Regions from separate parts of the Homo sapiens genome. Here region 1 is linked to region 2. Evidence: fine-mapped expression QTL. A gene starts in region 2. The other region holds a variant in brackets. All regions are shown on one strand. Distances are from middle to middle. Region 1 overlaps DIO2-AS1 (DIO2 antisense RNA 1). Region 2 holds the start of DIO2 (iodothyronine deiodinase 2).

The links.
Region 1: its variant is fine-mapped to the expression of DIO2 in sun-exposed skin (GTEx, PIP 0.94).

The regions. Positions count from the first base shown.
Region 1 is chr14:80,286,118-80,296,511 of GRCh38, reverse strand. The region is part of intron 2 of DIO2-AS1 (DIO2 antisense RNA 1); the gene reads right to left. Among named protein-coding and RNA genes, the nearest start is that of DIO2, 80 kb to the right of the region's middle. The variant A/G (reference allele first, on the strand shown) is at 5,206.
Region 2 is chr14:80,206,057-80,216,450 of GRCh38, reverse strand. It overlaps DIO2 (iodothyronine deiodinase 2), which reads left to right and starts at 4,947. Exons shown (of 2, transcript NM_013989.5): 1 at 4,947-5,200. The coding sequence starts at 4,979. It overlaps DIO2-AS1 (DIO2 antisense RNA 1), which reads right to left and starts at 5,032. Exons shown (of 9, transcript NR_038355.1): 1 at 4,963-5,032.

The DNA.
Region 1 (10,394 bases), 80 kb before region 2:
GAACCACTTGTTAAATTTGTTAAATTATATGTTTTATCTGCTTCACAGAGTCAATAATTTTATTCTTTTTACTAAGCTGCTTCTGTTGCTACAGAACTGTCTTAATTTTTAATGTATGAGGTGCCATAAGTTACTCTATTTTTAAAGCTTTTTTTTTTTTTTTTTTTTTTTTTTCGAGACAGAGTTTTGCCCTTGTTGCCCAGGCTGGGGTGCAATGGTGTAATCTCAGCTCACCACAACCTCCGCCTCCCAGATTCAAGAGAGTCTCGTGCCTCAGCCTCCTGAGTAGGCGGGATTACAGGCATGTGCCACCACGCCTGGCTAATTTTGTATTTTTAGTAGCAACGGGGTTTCTCAATGTTGGTCAGGCTGGTCTCGAACACCTGACCTTGGGTGATCCCCCGCCTCGGCCTCTGAAAGTGGTAAGATTACAGGCATGAGCCACTGTGCCCGGCCTTTAAAGCTTTTTAGCTTGAAATTACACTAATGTATTTGCTTTGTAAAATCATTCGAATTGGCAACTTCATGTTTAATCTTTCTTCCACCCTCAACTTTCCTTTCTGTCTGAGAGAATGCTGTTACTGGTGGCCATACTTTGGAAATCCTGCCCACACCACTTACAAGCTAGGTGACTTTGGGCTATTCTTATAACCTCCCTAAGTCTTAGTTTCTCATCTCTAAAACGCAGATGATAATAATAATAACTTACGGAGAAATGTAAGGATTAAATGAGATGATGCATATATAGTTCTTTGCATATTGTATGTTTTTTTAAAAAGTTAGCTATTGTTATACTTGTCATCACTCACATATTAAAAGTTCTTTTGTATCTTAAATATGATCTGTGCTTTGTAGTTCATATTTACTTGGTTCTATATCTACATGTCTAACTATATAATATATGTTATGTTATCTTGGCATAAATTTTCCAAACCATTCTGATTGTTCTTTACTTACATTTTTTCCCTAACTACCTACCACCCTATTTTTCTTTTCTCATTGCCATATACCTTGGAGGTGTAGTCAATATTAATAGGTCTCTGTTAAAAATGTTAGAGTTCCTTATCTCTGAAAAGATTGTGGTACTCACAGTCTCAATACTCACCCATATACAAATCAAAATAAAATTGTACTTTTTGAAATAACACAAAATCCAATCATAACTAATGCTAGCTTATATCTAAAAATATGAGTTTTGATGATGAAGTTAAGTATATTTTTCATTTTGTGATTATAAATTTCTGGCTCAATTCACTGTACCAGATTTTTTTACTTTTTGAAGGGGCAACTGTTATGCTACTATTAGTCTCTGTATCAAGTAAATCAGCCTCAGTAAATCAGCCTGTATCAAGTAAATCAGCCTCAGAAGCCAGTTGCCGTCATTTCTTTGGGACACACACAATTACACATGTATACACATGTGGTACTGTTTGCATATGCAGCATATATATTGTCATGCTTCATATATGTCAATATATATGTCAGCATGTCTATATATGTCATATGACATGACATATATGTCAATATATATGTCAGAATATATATTCACATACTTCAAAGTGTGTGAAGTATGCATGGAGGAATATAATAAAGATTTCCCTCTTACATCTGACATTTGGAGCAGGTTTTTTGGTTAGTTTCTCCACATCTCCTTTCCTTGTCTGTAAAAATGGGATCATAACAATATTTGTTTCTCAGACCGAGTTGCTATGAAGATCGGGAATAATTATGCAGGTAACACCATTGCAGAAGTTACTAGGCACTGCATAAACCTCGGCGAATTAAATTTAAATATGGCGCAATGATACTTTCTTTGTCTCGTTAAACTATTTAGATATGAGATCAAGGTCGGCCTTGAGTAATTGTTACCTACATCTCTTCTGTTGTTCAGCAACATGTTCCTGGCTGCTTAGTGAGCACACTCTCTCTTTCCCACCAGAAGATATGAGTGCCAATATGAGTCTTAATTCAAGACAAGGAAAAAGCCAATTGACAGATGTAAAAATAGTATTCATTTCACAGACCTGTTTGGAGGTTTAAATGTGATTATTTCTAAAGTATTCACTGTACTGCTCAGTACATAAGAAATGCTAAATAAATAGGGCTCTACTGATTGTTATTGAAAAACATTTTTGGAAGCAAAGTCTATTCTAAGTTTTGGTCAAGTTAGACTTGAGGTTTAGAATTTAAAAAGTGAGGGGGAGAGACCGACTGAGGTGAAGGCAGCCAAAGTTAACATGGAGACAGGCATAGCATGTATAGGGAATAATGTTGGTTCACATCATGTTCATGCACAGTGATTAGGAATAGCTAAGGTTATTCGTGGTGGCTCATGCCTATAATCCCAGCACTTTGGGAGGCCGAGGTGGGAGGATCACAAGGTCAAGGAGACTGAGACCATCGTCGCTAACACGGTGAAACCCTGCCTCTACTAGAAATACAAAAAAATTAGCCGGGCGTGGTGGCACGTGCCTGTAGTCCCAGCTAATTGGGAGGCTGAGGCAGGAGAATCACTTGAACCCAGGAGGCGGAGGTTGCAGTAAGCCGAGATTGCGCCACTGCCCTCCAGCCTGGGTGACAGAGTGAGACTACATCTCGAAAAAAAAAAAAATACTATAACCTCTCATTGCCTCTTATGGAGGTTGGATAATATAAATTAAAAGATTTTTATTGTTGTGGGTATGATGAAGTTTGAGGTACAATTTAGGAGTGGTTCTTGAGGCAGAGCTGAAACCTTCAGCAATTTAAAGGGGAGAGGTATATGAAGATTCTGGGAAAATTAGGAAGATAAAATAAAAGAATTGACAAGATTGAGTAGCATGTGGTAAAAGACGATAAGAGGAAAAATCCTAATAGTGATTTGGAAAAGAAGACAAATAATGGGAGCATTTAAAGGTTTTGGTGCAATATACAATTTAAATCTCTTCCTCCATCTTCCCTACCGAATCTTCAGTAAAATCTGAACTGCTCATAAATGTGCATTGAGTGTTTAGTGCCATAGATTGTATTTTTGTGTCTTCCCCAAATTCATATGTTGAAGGCTAACTCCCAATATGATGGTGTCAGGAGGTGGGGTTTTTGGGAGGTGATTAGGTTATGTGGGCAGAACCTTCATGAATGGAACTAGTGCCCCTAAAAAAGAGACCCTAGAGAGTTCCTATGTTCCTTTTACCATATGAGAACTCAGTGAGAAGGCACCATCTATGAACCAGGAAGCAGGCCCTCACCAGACACCTAATCTGCCAATGCCTCGATCTTGCATTTTTCAGCCTGCAGAACTGTGAGAAATAAATTTCTGTTTTTATACACCACCAAGACTAGGAATTTTTGTCACAGCAGTCTGAATGAACTAAGACATAAGAAAAAAATTATGAGAAAAAAGTTATAAGATGCAGAGGTACCTTTGATACAAAGGGACCACAAAGCTGGTACATTTGAAAACATTTGGGTTACACCGTCTTTACCTGTTCATTTTACTTGGATTTATTCCTGTTTCTCAGAGGCTTTTATTGCACAGAGCAGACATTCTCATCCATTGCTTTTTTATATACAGGTCTGAAGTCACTTTCAAGTTAGGGTCTGGCCCCTAGGAGCCCTAATTCTACTTTAAATTGCCCTAGAACATGCATGCTACATTGATGGGAGGCTTTAGATGTATAGCTCAAGAAATAAGGAGGCAAGATTGTAGTGATGGTGGCAGTGATAGTAGCCACTATCACTTTTGCTACTGGCTATAGAGAAAATTGTAGTGTAATGGTATAATAAAAAAATTCATGTAATTTTTAAGTTAGATCTATTTGAATTTGAATCAAGGATTTGTCATTGTTTGCAGTGTGACTTCAATTAACTTACATAACTTCTCTAAAACATAGGTGTTCTCATCTCATCCCTTTACTCATAAGGTTGTGAAAGACTCACAAAAAGAGGTAACAGTAGTGGGAGGGAAACAGGTTGAAAGATTACTGTAGAAATTATCACTGACTATTTAAGCTAAAGATATATTTTGTTGAATTTAATGAAGTAATACTCCTCTAAGCTAAATATTTTGTAAAACAGCATTCATTCTACGATATATCAAAAGAATGATACACGCTAATAAATGTTTATTTACTCTCTTTCATAAGAAAGTAATTTTTTATAATCAATGAAGTTTTCTGGTATTTTTATTTTAGTTGTGAATAATCTGATAAGTTTACATATGATTTGGATATTCATACTAGCATTATCGACTGCCTCGTATATAAAACTCAATTAAAAAAATGATTCATTACTAAGCTACTGAGAGGATAAACAACTTGCCAGTTTCTTTAGGCATAATCTTTTAGATACTGATAAGTTAACCATTTCTAAAACCAGTTATAAATTTTACAAAATAGCAGTAGGGGTATGCTATATTTGCAAATGTATTCTTATCTTAGAATTTTTGTTATTCAATTAGCACATCAACTTAAGATATAGTTCAAGTACTAAGATGTTCAGGAACCACTGAACAATTTTCTGGACAAAGAACATGAAATTACTAATTTCCTCCAGTCAGCTTCACAGTTCCAGTGCATCTGGAGCTAGGATCATCCAACCAATTTGAAAATAAAGTAATCACAATATCTCCGCCAATATTTTCTGTCTTAATGGAACTAAGGATCCTGGCTAACACTTTGCATTTAGCTGTTACAAGGCAAAAATTTTAAAATTTATCTTCTATAACTGGCTAAAATAATAAATATGATGGTGCTTTAAAAATGTAATGGATAATAATAGCTTATTTTTTTGAAAAGCCTTCATTGAAGAAAATGGTCATTCCAGTCTTTAAACTTTATGAAATAACCAGGGGGGCTACAAAAAATTATTTTCAAGCATCTCAATGCATGATATTTGTTTAGCTGTGGGATTATCTGTAAAGTTACTGTTCATATTAAAAAGGATAATCAAAGGCTAAAGATACTGAAAGATCCCCTGGGCAATCAATATATAATCATTTAGTAAGTAAATGAGAAATTAAAAGGCTTATACAATAAAGCATCTTCTTTCCAACTAAAATTTAAAAATTGCTTTAACACAGACTAAAGGATAATTAATAGAACCCATTACTAAGAGTGGATGGCCTGACCTAATACTTTAACAAGCATATTTATTCATCTTCAAAGCCAAGAGAAAATGCTTTTGAAACTAGGTCAAAGAGGGAAGTGGTTTTTCTTAGACTATTGT[A/G]TAATCTGATATTACTTGACTTCTATATTGTTGAGTAACAGACCACAACAAAGGTATCGTGTGACTTGTTTACATTTCAATGAAACACATACAAGGCTTTATTTCATTCTATAGAGTTGAGAATTTATGTGATTCCTTTACAGTTGATTCCAGACCAATTTTAAGACCTTTAATGGCCATAGGTTTTTTGATTTTTGAAGGTCTTATCTCAAGCAATTTTTAATATATTAAAGTTAAAATGATCACAAACACTGAATGTAACCTTGTTGTAATGTTTTTGAAATTGCTGTGTTATTGCTGCCAACTACTTATAAAGTACAACCATATCTCTTTAACTTTTTATCAAATTCAAAATAATTAGCCATTTATTATAACCATGATAGTTTATATCTAATAAAAGATATCAAAGAGTTAACCTCTTACAGATTCAATGCAATCCCTAACAAAATCCCATCTAGTTATTTGTTTTTTGGAGAAATTGACAACCTGATCTTAAAATTCATATGGAAATTCAAGGGGATCAGACTAGCCAAGACAATCATGAAAAAGGTATATGAACTTGGAGGACTTATACTTCCAATTTGAAAACCTGCTATAGTAAGTTACAATAATCAAGCCAGTGTGGTACTGACACAGGATAAATACATAGATCAGTGGAATAAAATTAATAATATAGAAATTAATCTAGTATTTTTGGTTAATTGATTTTTGGCAAAGGGGCGAGTCAATTCAATGGGGGAAAGAATACTCTTCAAGAAATGGTGCTGGTACAACTGGTTATCCATTTGCAAAAAGATGAATTTAGGGTCCTACATAATGTCATACACAAAAATGAACTCACAGTAGTGATTGCAGACCTAAATGTAAGTCCTACAACTAAAATAAAAGTAAATCTCTGCGTTAGGCAGTGATTTCTTAGGAATGAAATCAAAGCATGGGTGATAAAATAGAAAATTGGTAAATTGAACATCAAAATTAAGACTTTTATGCTTCAAAGAGCACCATCAAGAAGGTGAAAAGACAACCCACACTATAAAAGGAAATATTTGCCCATCATGTATCTGATAAGGGACTTGAATCTAGAATATATGAATTCTTACAATAATAGAACAAGCAAACCAATTTAAAAATGGGCAAAGCATTTGAATAGGCAGTTCTCCAGAGAAATATAAAAATGATAAACACACAAAGTAATGCTCAAAATCATTAGTCATTACTGAAATGCAAGTCAGAACCCCAGTGAGATACCACTTCACATCAACTGAATGGCTATAATAAAAACAGACACAATTGTTAGTGAAAATTTGAGAAACTGGAACTCTTGTACATTGTGACGGTGTTATAAAAGTCGAAGCCATTTTAGAAAATGGTTTAGCAGTTCCTCAAAAGGTTAAGAATAGAGTTACCATATGACCCAGCAATTCCACTCCTAGATATCTACCCAAGAAAAATGGGAGCTTATGTTCACACAAAGAACTATATACAAACATAAATAGCAGCATTATTTGTAATAGCCAAAAAAGTGGTAACAACCAAAATGCTTATCACTTGATGAGTGGAAAAATAAAATGTGGTGTAGCCATATAAGGGAATATTATTCTACAATAAAAACGAATAATATACTGTTATTTGCCACAATATGAATGAACCTCAAAAACCGTGCACTAGGTAAAAGAAGTCAGTCACAAAAGACCAACTAGTGCATGATTTCGTTTATAAGAAATGTTCAGAATAAGCTAATCTACAGAGACAGAAAGTAGATCAGTGTTGCCTAGGAATGAATGGAGGAGTAAGGGAGGAAACAGACAGTGATTGCTAAAGGGCATGCGGTTTCTTTATGGAGTGATGAAAATGTTCTAAAATTAGCTAATGGTGATGATTGCACAACTCTATAAATATACTAAAATCCATTAAATTATATACTTTAAACAGGTGAACTATATGGTATGCAAATTATATATCAGTAAAGCTGTTAAAAATGAGGTAACCTCCAAAACACAATAAAATAAGTGACGTGAATATTTTATGTGATAGCTACTTATACTAATTTTAGCAGCTGTTTTATATTTTCTTCAGAAATAGCCTGAATTTATGATCTACACCTTTCTATTTTTCCTCTAGCTCTCCCTATCTCTATCTTTATCTGTATCTCTCTTTCTATAAGTGAGTCCAGAAAATTAAAATACTATGATAAGATATGTTTTAAAATCTGAGTAACATAGCTACATCTTCTCCTATTTTAATAAATATCACTTTGGGTTATTTTAGCTTAATTTGCACTAAACTCAGAAACCCAATTTTATGTTTATGTTTGATATTGGCAAATCTATTTGACAATTATGAATCTGAGCTGATACTAAATAGTTTCAGATGAATTGTTGCTTTCTGACATTTCTTACTAAATGCTAAGAAAATTCTGGTTATTTTAGGAGATAGGATGAAAGAATTATTTCACCTGGGGAAAGAAAGCTCAATGAGAATCTTCTAGTATTTGAAGGATAGTGGCCAGTTACTCTCTCCCTACTCTGAAAATCATTCCTAGTGACCAGCAAGATGAATTTTTTTAATGCCTGCACAAGAAATTACTAACAGCAAGAATTTGAAACACTGAAATGACTTAGGAAACGTAAGCCTGGGTATTGTTTTCCTCTTGTTCATAGGAAAGAGCCCATCCGTAGGAGGTGCTGCGGGCATAATGGCTAGAGGCAGAGGATTTCTTCAGATGAATCAATTAGGCACTTTTCCCATAATAGTTGTACAGTTACAAAAGGATTCAGTTGCTTTTTTTTTTCTGTAAGTATATATGTTTTTTTTGGTAGGGACAGTTCAATATAGATTAAATATTTAAATTAGATTTGATATGTTTTACATCAGCCATTTCACACCCGAGAACAATTTCCAGTGAAAGAGATCAGTTACACTGATAGCCCAGGCTAGTTTTGAACAAAATTAGGAAGTTAATAGAGTTAGTTGTTCTTTCGTATTACCTTTCTTTTCCTTCTTTCATGAATTATGTCTCTTCCTGGTAGGCAGCATGGTATAGTAGGAAAGCATTATTCCTGAAAACAAAACCCAGTTTCCCACATACAAGTTGTTCATCTGGTCTCAGTTGCTTAACCTGTCTCTGTTTCCTCATATTCAAGAGGAAAATAACCAGTCCTACTTTATTAACCTGGTTTGAGCATTAAATGACACAAAGTAGTAGAAACAGAGAAATGTTTTCTTTCCCTTCCTCTTAAGGCCTCTCTTGTTGTAAAGGAAAGCAGTAAATGTAAACCATCTCAAGATGCTTTTTTTTAAATAGGTTACTCTTTTTCAGGAATATTTGAGTTTAAAAATAGTCTATGTAGAATAAATTACATGTTGGAAGTAAGGAAGGGAGACCCTTGAGAGCAAGGAACATTCTAAGTTATCTTAAATAATAGTATGAAGGTATACATTATTTACACAGGATTTTGGCCAATTTGGTTGTGTTTTCTAATTTTTTTGTTTTGGTTTGGTTTTTTGAGACGGAGTCTTGCTCTGTTGCAAAGGCTGGAGTGCAGTGGCGCGATCTCGGCTCACTACAACCTCTGACTCCCTAGTTCAAGAGATTCTCCTGCCTCAGCCTCCTGAGTAGCTGGGATTACAGGCATGCGCCACCACGCCCAGCTAAGTTTTGTATTTTTTTTCTTTTTTTTTTTTTTTTTTATTGATCATTCTTGGGTGTTTCTCGCAGAGGGGGATTTGGCAGGGTCATAGGACAATAGTGGAGGGAAGGTCAGCAGATAAACAAGTGAACAAAGGTCTCTGGTTTTCCTAGGCAGAGGACCCTGCGGCCTTCCGCAGTGTTTGTGTCGCTGGGTACTTGAGATTAGGGAGTGGTGATGACTCTTAACGAGCATGCTGCCTTCAAGCATCTGTTTAACAAAGCACATCTTGCACCGCCCTTAATCCATTTAACCCTGAGTGGACACAGCACATGTTTCAGAGAGCACAGGGTTGGGGGTAAGGTCATAGATCAACAGGATCCCAAGGCAGAAGAATTTTTCTTAGTATAGAACAAAATGAAAAGTCTCCCATGTCTACTTCTTTCTACACAGACACAGCAACCATCCGATTTCTCAATCTTTTCCCCACCTTTCGCCCTTTTCTATTCCACAAAACCGCCATTGTCATCATGGCCCGTTCTCAATGAGCTGTTGGGTACACCTCCCAGACGGGTTGGTGGCCGGGCAGAGGGGCTCCTCACTTCCCAGAAGGGACGGCTGGGCAGAGGCGCCCCCCCACCTCCCAGACGGGGCGGCTGGCCGGGCTAAGGCACCCCCTACCTCCCTCCCGGACGGGGCAGCTGGCTGGGCGGGGGCTGACCCCCCCACCTCCCTCCCGGACGGGGCAGCTGGCTGGGCGGGGACTGACGCCCCCCACCTCCCTGCCGGACGGGGCGGCTGCCAGGCGGAGATGCTCCTCACTTCCCAGATGGGGCGGCTGCCGGGCGGAGGGGCTCCTCACTTCTCAGATGGGGCGGCTGCCGGGCGGAGGGGCTCCTCACTTCTCAGACGGGGCAGCCTGGCAGAGGCGCTCCTCACATCCCAGACGGGGTGGCAGGGCAGAGGCGCTCCCCACATCTCAGATGATGGGCGGCCGGGCAGAGACGCTCCTCACTTCCTAGATGGGATGGCGGCCGGGAAGAGGCGCTCCTCACTTCCCAGACTGGGCAGCCAGGCAGAGGGGCTCCTCACATCCCAGACGATGGGCGGCCGGGCAGAGACTCTCCTCGCTTCCTAGACGGGATGGCAGCCGGGAAGAGGGCTCCTCACTTCCCAGACTGGACAGCCGGGCAGAGGGACTCCTCACATCCCAGACGATGGGCGGCCAGGCAGAGATGCTCCTCACTTCCCAGACAGGGTGGCGGCCGGGCAGAGGCTGCAATCTCGGCACTTTGGGAGGCCAAGGCAGGCGGCTGGGAGGTGGAGGTTGTAGCCAGCCGAGATCACGCCACTGCACTCCAGCCTGGGCACCATTGAGCACTGAGTGAACGAGACTCCGTCTGCAATCCCGGCACCTCGGGAGGCCGAGGCTGGCGGATCACTCGCGGTTAGGAGCTGGAGACCAGCCCGGCCAACACAGCGAAACCCCGTCTCCACCAAAAAAATACGAAAACCAGTCAGGCATGGCGGCACTCGCCTGCAATCGCAGGCACTCAGCAG
Region 2 (10,394 bases):
GTGGATCCAGACTAGGCCAATCCTAAGTGAAGTATATTGTTGTCTCCTAACAGCTGTTCTGTGGCCTCTGTGAAATGCGGTGGTGGCTTTCATCCAGATACCGGACAGCTGTTGCCTCACAAAGAGCATCGCCACAATTAGCATTAACTGGCTCTTTGTTGGTGGCCTCCACTGGCAACTCATTGAATCTTTTCTTTCCCTGCCTATCTCCTACCATCTTTATCTCCCTTTTTCTCTTCATTTTTGCTTTCCCTCTCCTTTTTATTTCCTTTGTCTTTTTCTCCCCCTCTGTCTTACCAGTAGGTAGCCTGGAAAAAAAAGAGAAGCAACAGTTCCTGAGGGAAGAATGCATTAACAACTCGGATGGGTGCTGTCTGCCAGCACTGCAGAGGAACCTACGGAGAGGGCTGCTGGGAGAGAATGCTCATACCTCCCAAGGCGTCAGCCTGCCCTCCCGCCCCCAAGTTGCTTTGCTCAAGGTGTGTCAGAGTTTACTCTGGGATTGTGTATTTTATCCATTGAGCTTCTCCTTTCATCACAAGGCAGAGAACACGGCTGTGTTTGTGGAATGGATGGGCCCACAGGGAATTTTGAGTGATTCAGTAGTTGTGGTGTAAGCCGTTCGTCATAACTCCCTGTCAGGCAGAGTCACTGGAGGCAGTAGGTTATACAGTTTGTGATTCCTTGCTCTGATAAGAGCGGCGCTGTTTTAGGCGTTATGTATGGCAACCATATTCTCAAATCCAAAATCAGCATGCCTGCTGTTTCCAGACATTTTTGGATTTATAATGTGTTTATTTGACATGTTTTTAAGAAAGTAAAAATGAAATGCCATTTTTTAAATTATGCACTTGACAAATCACTGGAATTAGAAAGAATAAAATTCCACGAAACAAAGGCAGCTTGAAAGTCCATGGTATGAGTTGTTAACATGACAGAACTGTCTGGATGCTCTTCTGCTCTTTCAAATAAGAATAAGGAAATAGTAATGGCAACTGTTGTGCTTAAAATTTCCAAGTCTGCTTTCAGATTATCCAACTTTATTTTCTCAATCTCAATTTTAGAGTCAAGAAGAGGACTAAAGAAAGTCTTGTGACTCATATGCTTGTTATTTTCCAACCAGAAAGAGGCAACAGTAGGACATGATGCTCTTTTACTATGGGAATATAAAAAAGTTAAACAATTTTGCAAAGGTTTTTTCATAAAAAGCCCAAAGCATTTTGCCCTAGGCTGCTTCTCTTTGGAATTTAAAACCCGTGTGGAATATCGTATGGGGAAATGCAACCGACATGCCCCTCGTTGGTTTGCATTTAACTCATTACATGTTGATTGCTAAGAACACATACATGACCAAGAAGATAGCCAAGCCCTTTGAAAGAACATATGAAATCTAAACAAGGAGCCTGAGTCGGGACAGTCTTAAACAGATGTGAAGTCCTCACAGCCTTTGCCATTTTGAAGATTAAATTACTAGCAAACCACTTTCAACAAGGGTTTTGGTTCTCATAGTAATGACCAGGACCCATAACAGACATTAAAGAAAAAAAGTGAGGCTTATTTAGAGTTAGGGAAAATATCCCAACACCCGCTTGGACTCCCTAATTTTGGTAATCTGCTTTCTCTCATCTATATGATGGGAAAAGTCATACTCTGTCACCTTAGGATTATTCTGTTACTTAATGAGTATAAAATTACTTGAAAATCAATGTGGTAAATATTCTTAATAACTGGAATGAGCAATTGTGCACCATGCATAAAAAAAGAAATAGCTTTGGAGAAATGTAATTTCTTGGATGGACAGATTGTCTATCTGCTAGAGGAATGGCCCTCAGTTTTGTGATGTGTTTATCGTTCATTTAGAAAAATGATTGAAGAAATCTGAGAAATGACATAACCAGATTGGCTGTGTATCTTTTTGTTCTCCTATTTAAAAAAAAATTCCCTTCAAACACTTCTAACCTCAATAAATAAATAAATAAAAAGAAACAAAAGCCCCCAACAGAGTCCTAATTCTAACTTATAACCACTTAAAGTCTGGATATGCTTTGAACTTCACATTTAAAAGAAAGGTTTTTCTGATTTTCTATCAATCCCTCTCCTTAGCTTGCCATTTACAAACATACTTTCCTCCTTCAGAGCAAAAGCAAGTGAGAGAGAATTGGTTTAAAGCTGCTGAAGTCTCCACTGCAGGGGAGCACTGGTTTAATTCAATCAAGGTAGAATGAAGGTCTGAGAAGGGGAGAGATTCTAAGGCCTGGGCAATTGAGTGGAAGCAGCATTTCCTGAGTCTACACCTCCTTCTGCCATTGTTGGTGGGAACTATGGCAATATAGCTTTCACATCTCCACCAGTTAAAATACTGTGCTATCAACTCCCTGCCTTTGTTCTTTCTTTTTTCCCATAAGGACATTGAGTAGTTTGAGAAGATACATGCAGTAAATGTACATTGCATATATTAGTAATATTATTTTGCTAACATTGTATGCTAGTCATAGGGAAGGTGTAATTTTTCTATGTGGTTTATATTATTTTTCTAAGCTTTGAAGTCTTTTAACAATTTCGTCCATGAGATGCAAATTCAAAACTCATTAGGAGCCAAACTAATGAAAAAAATGAAAGAATTTGTAGGGAATGCTGAGGGTTGTGTCACAAGAGAGGGCATTGCACAAGGCCACCACGTTTTACAATTCCAGGGCACCCCCATTCACATCATATTGTATGTGAATGGTGCCCCCTAGTGTAGAGCAATGCAGAGGCCCTCTACATGCCCTGTTCATTCATTCATTCAGGACGTCCTCAATGAGCCAACTGTGCGCCAAGCATGGTTCTAGGTGTTGGGGAGGTAGCAGTGAACAAAGTGGACAAGAATCCCTGCTCTCACGGAACCTAAAGGCATTCTTTTTTGATTATTGTTTTTTTAAAGGCAAAAAAGCAACCTGCCAACCAAACAAAATGCATTAATATGCAGAATTCAGCTAACAGGACGACAAATTAATGACTCTTGTCTAGGCTTTTAAATTATTTCTGTGATCATGAAGGTTTTAGCCACATGGAAAAAATACGCAATACGCTAACCACAAGCTTGCACCTACTGCTTAGCTTATGCCTAAGCTCTGGCTACATAGAAAACTCAGCTATCTATTACCCAGTATCTAAAACTCAGTATCTATCACTGAGAAAACTCAGTGATCTATTAGGTAACACAGGATGAAAAAGTAGAATAAAGTGGGGGTCATGCCATTCTGCCAAAGCATTGTCTGCCTAAATACCTGTCCTAAAGACTCATGGGAGAGGCAAGCCAATGAACAATGGTCAATGTGGCACCTTGAACCAATTCAGTCGGCTCTTAACTTCCCATACATTTAATTAAAATTTTTTTCAAACAAAAAGGAAGATTCCTTAAAGTATCAGGTCTCTTAGGGGTTATGCTAACAGAAGCAGGTGAAACACCAAATTTAAAGAGCTTTCATTAATAATTTCTCAGCCTTATGGCTTCTTAATGCTATTCAATGGAAAGTTTTAATTTTATCTGCAAAATGAAGCTAAAAGAATGTCGCCTAGCTCCTTCCCTGTCTGGAGGAACTTGGATTTTTTTTTTTTTTTTCATTAGAAGCTTGGGTAAAACTAAAAAGAAACCTGTATTCAAGTTTCTGCAAGAAGCTTTAAAGAAATGCTGGGATGGTACTCAAATAGTTTACAAGTTTTCCACCTACAACTCATTTTGCATTTTCTTAAATAAGATAATGACTCAAAAAAATTTAAAGGACCTAGGTCACAGATCTTACAAAGGGTTGGAGTCATGGTATAAAGGTATAAAGATTGTATATAAATGTTCATATTTTCCAAGAAACAGAGCAAAGACCGCCTGTGATAACTCTTCCTTTTTTCTACCTGCCTTCCAGGATCCTTTCTTTCCAAAACCCCTCATAAATTAATGATAATGATAATCAGAAGAGAGAGTGTTGGCCATATCAATCTGCACATTATATTAAATTACTTTTCCCAAAGTTTGGAAGCATTTCCTGAAGGCTGTCAAGGGTATTAGTTTTTTTCTCTCTTTAAATCACAAAGCAAAATTCCACTGTCTCTCCCCAACCCCTTCTAAAAAAAAAAAGTTGTCGAGTTTTGCTTTTCTATTCACTGCAATCCTGGCCAAAGTAAAGCCCTCTTTCTCAATGACGTCAAGATCTTTACCAAGATTAGGCTTTCACTTCTCTATTGCAGCAATTAGCCAGGGAATGTATAAAAGGCGTCAGGGAGACTCACTGGGCTGCAGAGAGAGGCACTTTGCACCACAGACAGATAGCAAGAAGGGAAAGACAGAGAGTGAGAAAAAAGAGGAGTCAGTCGCTCCTGGGGAAGGGAGAGAGTGAGACTGGGAGAAAGAGAAGCACAGAAAGTGTGTGTAAAACGGAGTAAAGAAAGAAAAAAAAAAAACTACCCTTAAAGCACATTTAAAAAAAAAAAAAACTCTGGCAATTCAAGAAAGAAACAGGCTACGTTTAAAGAGCATAGAGACAATGAAAGGCTAAAGAAAATTTTAAAATCTCTGCCACAGTCTCATAGGTGCTTGGAAATGAAAGTAGAACTGCCTGTCTTTAACGGACTCTGACAGAGGTAACTGGATTAGGGACGAGTACGCCAGCTTTTTTTTTTTTTTTTTTTTTTTTTTTTTAACATCTTAAATCCTGAAAAAAAAAAAAAAAAAAAAAAAAAGGCAGCAGCTCCGAATTGAATGAATTGATGGGCACACTCCAACTGCTGGGCTGGAGAGACTGGACTTAGTCTTGCCATTTCTGCTTCTTTGAAAGAGGAGACAACTTGGGCTTCCTTTTAATTTAGTTTTTTTTCCCCTTCTCCCCCAACCCCCAACCTTCCCCCTTACCTCCCCCACCCCCTTTATCACCACCCCCCTTTTAAATAAGAGGGTGAAGGGGAACCAGAGCGCACAAGGGAACTGACTCAGGAGGCAGAGAAGATGGGCATCCTCAGCGTAGACTTGCTGATCACACTGCAAATTCTGCCAGTTTTTTTCTCCAACTGCCTCTTCCTGGCTCTCTATGACTCGGTCATTCTGCTCAAGCACGTGGTGCTGCTGTTGAGCCGCTCCAAGTCCACTCGCGGAGAGTGGCGGCGCATGCTGACCTCAGAGGGACTGCGCTGCGTCTGGAAGAGCTTCCTCCTCGATGCCTACAAACAGGTGAGCTGAGCTGAGAAGGGCTTCTCCCTAGGTCTACAGGGGCAGGGGCTCATATGCTGGGGACCAGAGGCCATTGGGAGCATTGGGGGGAGAGCTGTGAAGCCCTATTTGTGGGGTTGCCAAGTGAGCCTCTAAGTTTACTTTCCACACCTGTTGCACAGGTTAGCTTGGGAGGGTGACAGCTATTAAGCCATAATGACTCTGTGTGACCTAATAAGGAATCTTTCTACTAAGGGTTATTAATATCTTGCTGTGATTTGGGAGTAGAAGGCATTGTGCTGGTACGATAACTTGGGAAAAGTCAGAAAATGATGGAGAAGAGGAGACTGCTGCATTTATTCTGCTCTTGCCATAAACTGGAATTTTGATTTTTTGCTTGATGGGAGGCTGAGGTACACTGAGGAAGTATGTTCGAGGGGTGGGTACTGAAAAGCAAGAAATGAGAAATGCTACTCAGAACTCTCAGAGAGTTGACAAGATAAGAAAGTGGTCATAGAAATTGTGATTGGGCATCATAGCTGCTTGGTTTCTGGTAGAGGTAAGAGTTAATGAAAGCAAGCAGCTGTGTGCCACCTCCTCTACATTGATTCAAATTTGAACCCTTTGGAAGCGATTTTCAGGCAGTGATCCTGAGTTACTAGATATCAACTTGCGAAAGAAAAGTCTGAAAACTAGCTGTCAGAAATCCAGCATTTGTAAGGGAAGCCTCCTTTACTTTGTTTCTCAAAAATAAAATACGTTGCCCTAGAAAGAGATGATGGGTCTGTGATTCATTAAATCTCAGAGCTGTTATGAGCATTAGAGCAGTGGTCTCCCTTACCTGCTCAGGTAGTGCCCAGGGGCTGCTCTCTCAAAATCAGAGGTAGTGATCTTAGTTTCTAAGTGAAAAATACTGTGTTCCAGGCTTTTTGCTGGTGAGAGATGTTAGTAGAGCATTTTCAACTAAGATCTTCAGGGGCACAGAGGATGATTTTCGCCCTGGTCTTTTGTCAGTTTTCCCCCACCTGCTATGCCCATATGACTTCTAAAGGTCCCCTCCACCCCCTCAACCAGGCTTGAGAAGAATGAACTATTTTGGCAAAAGTAGTTATCAAAATAGACAATCTTGGTTTCCCTAAAAGTGTTGTGGGACCTTGCCCAAGATGCCAGAAAAAGCAACTGTACATCTGTATTTTAGAGGAATATAGAAGCCAGGTGTTCAGTGAAGTGGTGTGTTTTAGGCAGGCAGCACCTTAGAACCAGAGACGGGGAACTCGAAATAATAGAGACGCAAGGGAATGCATCCTCCATAAATAAACACTAGAAAACTAAAACCATGCGCCAAGAAAAGAGAAGAAGTAACTTGTAAAATTACAAAGAATTCAGGACAGGATTGTTCTTCTGAAAATCAGATGTTCAAGAAGAAAATATCTGTTGTGAACTAGGGAAATTTTACCACAATGCACGTCTTTATTATTGATAGTAACCCAAAGAGGGTTTGTGTTTATTGTTGTTAAAAATGTGAATAGTAAGAGCTCTTATTAGTAGATGGAAATTCTTTTATGAGAATATGAATTGGTGCTCAAAGTTCTAACAGTAAAAACTCATTTATATTGTGCATGTCAGTGAGGACGGGAGATCTAGAAAAGTAGATATTGAATTGATTATTTCATTTCCACAAAAGTATACATTGAATGGGAAGTTTTTAATGGTTTGTTTTAGTGGAAGGCAATTTGGAGGCAGGTGGAGGAGTACACAAGTATATCAGACATATTATTAATTAGGAAGTTCCCTCTTCAACATCATATTTTATACGTGTTAGCAGATACCATGGAAATATCAGTGATTTGATCTCAGTATATTAAACTCTTACTTTTTGGAAGGACAATTGCCTTTTGCCTATAAAGTAAAAAAAAAAAAACTTATTGGAAGAATTTTACTTATATACATATATTTCTTATATAAATGTCATGTTTCATTAAGAAAAACATGAAAAACAGTCATCTCTCATATAAACAATGGGGGCTGTAATGTTACCCACAAATATTAAGTGAGGTTGTTTCTCCCATTAAGCAGCTTATTGAACATAAAATGGAAAAGCAAACAAATACGTCTTCAATAAAGTTTATTGTTTTTTTCACCAATGTATAGTGTTCCATTATGTTGCAATATGTTGTTATTCCTATTCTAGGAAATTGGGAAGGATGAGTGATTTGTTTTTTCTTTTTGCATATGGTTTGTATATTCCTATTCTGTATTTCTTTGTCCCTGCCTACTGATTTGATTAGTGACCAAGTTCACGACTGATGTTATTATGTTTGCTTTTGATGATTTATGTAATAGCTACCATGTGCAGAAGCAACCCCAGGACCCACATATCCAGAAACAAGACTGGACTGGGTGTGTGATAAATGGAAACATTATGAACACAGCTGCAACTGAATGATGGTCTCTTTTCTGTCTTCAAGTATGGCAAGGGTGGTGGTTTCTGTGGTGGCATTTGAGGGTCACTCAGAATCTCTCAACCAGGTTGAATCACTTCTCTGAATGCTCTTGTCATTTGTGCCACTGTCTTTGGGTGTAGTCATTTCCAGAGACGTTGTAAGAGGTTCTGTTTGAGATGGCATCACACTATTTCATAACCCTGACTTGCATTATTTTGAGGCTACCCATCCCCAGAAGTGAAGTTTTCCAGGATGAGAGGGGTGTGTGCTCATGTGATACAACTACACATGTGATTTACTGTTATTAATTCTCCTTGTTGCTGCATGTCAGATGCCTGGAAAGATATGTAGAGAAAGTGGAGTAAAAGTATTATCCCTGTGTTTTGCCTCCACAAGGGGCAACACAGAAATAAAGAAAGAACAAAATATTTTCTTTTCTTTTTTTTTTAAATAAACCCTTTCTTAAAAGGTTGAAAGGGATTTGAATTAACTTTATGGAGAAGCCTTTAAAGATAATGTGAGTTTAGTAAGAGATGGATTCTGTGTACAATTTTGATTGAAAGGAAAGTCTATAGACACTGGTGAGAGACCCTGAGGTGAATAAAAGGTGTTTGTTATTTAAGTTTCTTTAGTCAGCGTCATTGCATCTGAACAGTATATCCTTGTGCTGGCGCTCAGAGACTAAAAACATGCAACCAATAAGCAAATTGCTCTGTCTGGGAGCCTGGCTCTTACCTAAATGAAGTGTAAAAGTAAACACACAGTATAGATGCTGACAGGCAGTTTAGCTTCTGCACGGTTAATATTGCAGAGGTACAGAAAACATATTCATTTGAACATATAATTTTGGTTTTGAAAGGGTCTCTTTAACATTCTCCTCCTCCTCTTCATTCACCTCAAGCCTTTGACACTAGTTTCCACAATGGAAAATGGCCCTTTTAAGAGAGAAACAGTCCCAAAAGAACACAAAGCAGGCCACAGCCAGAGCTTGTCCATCACTTGGATAAAACATTGGGGAATGATAGAGCTTAGAGCTACATTTTCAAGGTACAAATTAAAAAGAGAATAGCTAAAAGGGAATTGAGCTCAGAGGAAGGAGTACGTAGCCTATTCTTCAACTCTGATTTATTTGGCCAATCTGAATATAAATGGTTAAATCTCTTCTTAATGATAGTTTGGCCATGTTTCTAAGGACATTGATGTAGCCTGGTCATTATGTCAAAGAATTTGAAACTTCCTGATAGTTAATAAAGCCATTTTCAGGGCTTTGGATAGCAAGTAGTATGTGTGAAAATTCTGCTACCACACACCCACCCTTCATTTTTATAATTTGCTTTAGTTTCTGTTATGAGATTATGTGATATATTGTCCACAAGGCTTTCTCAGGCTGTGGAAAAGAAAAAGAAATAAAATCCCAAAACAAGAAACAAGGTTAGTAGTATATGCTGTATTTTCTGCTTCTACTTGATGAATGGTTCTTTTCTCCCCCTTGCCCTGCATTTCACAGTCCACATGCTAAAGCAGCATTTCCTTTTTCCCCATGCACTGAACACTGAACATCATCAAGGGAATCAAATTTTTATATATGCTATATGTTTATGTTCATGTTCATATTTATAAAGATTTCCATTCCAACATTTGAACTTGGCCCGGAGATGTCTTCTGTTGTAAAAATGCAAATCCTTTATTTACCTCCTTTGTTGGTGTTGTGTTGATGTTGCTTGCAAAAACATAAGAGAGGACCACTGTAATAGTGCAGATGAGAGAGATAAAAGTCAGCGATGACAATATCACATTTTACGTATGTCCTTTCTGATCCTTGCAAAATAAAGGGACCCTTTGGGAACATCGGAACTTCAAGACCAATTAGTGGAAATGATGCTTCTTGTGTTTGGGCATTAAATACTGGGCAGGGTTCTCTTTAGAGCGGCTAATGCTGGCAGGGAAAGAGGTACCGACCTAATTACTCTTCCGCAAGAGTAAAAAATGCCTTTTGAATGCCTCTTTGGCAAATATGTCTCATTAAGGACAAAAACCAAACACAAACCCTCTAAGAAGGAGAAATTAAGATGATAGGTAACTTGTGGCCAGACTTTCTGTGCCACTGTGGGAAATTAAAACAAAGTTTGGGAGTACCAGGGGATAACTTGTTTTTGTTGAGCTTCTTTCCTGCAGCCTAAATGTTATTATGGGACCAACTTTATTTTCTTCATCATTTTGGCTCTGTGTCAAGGAATGCTTTGCTCGTGGGGAGAGCAAAGAATCTTCCATCATCGAAGACAATGGTGATTCTCCCAGCCTGTCTCAGCAGGGTGCATAACCCAGCAAACCAAGAAGTTCTCCATTTGAAACTCTGGTCTATTAGGAATTTAATTTTTATGGTGACCAAATGGGGAGATGAGAATGAACAGTAATATCCTTTTAGAATATTTTCTTTTAGGTTAAAGGAAACTTCCATATCTAAAAAAAGTTTTTTTTCTTTATTTTAGCTAAATTGTCCTCCATCAGGTTTTAGCAAAGATGGACACATTTTATGACTAGTATATGAAGCTTATAAAAGCAGACTACTGGTCTACTCACATTTGGATTTATGGATGGTGGGTGTGTGTTTTTCCTTCTTAGTTTTATTAATAATATTAATTTTATCTATGCATTTTCTCTTGCCTAGGCACCTTCATGAATAAGCATATCCATTTATGACATTATAACATTCAGTAAGGGACCCTGGCTCCTCAACAAAATAAAAATAATAGGCCACATTTGTTTTGTGC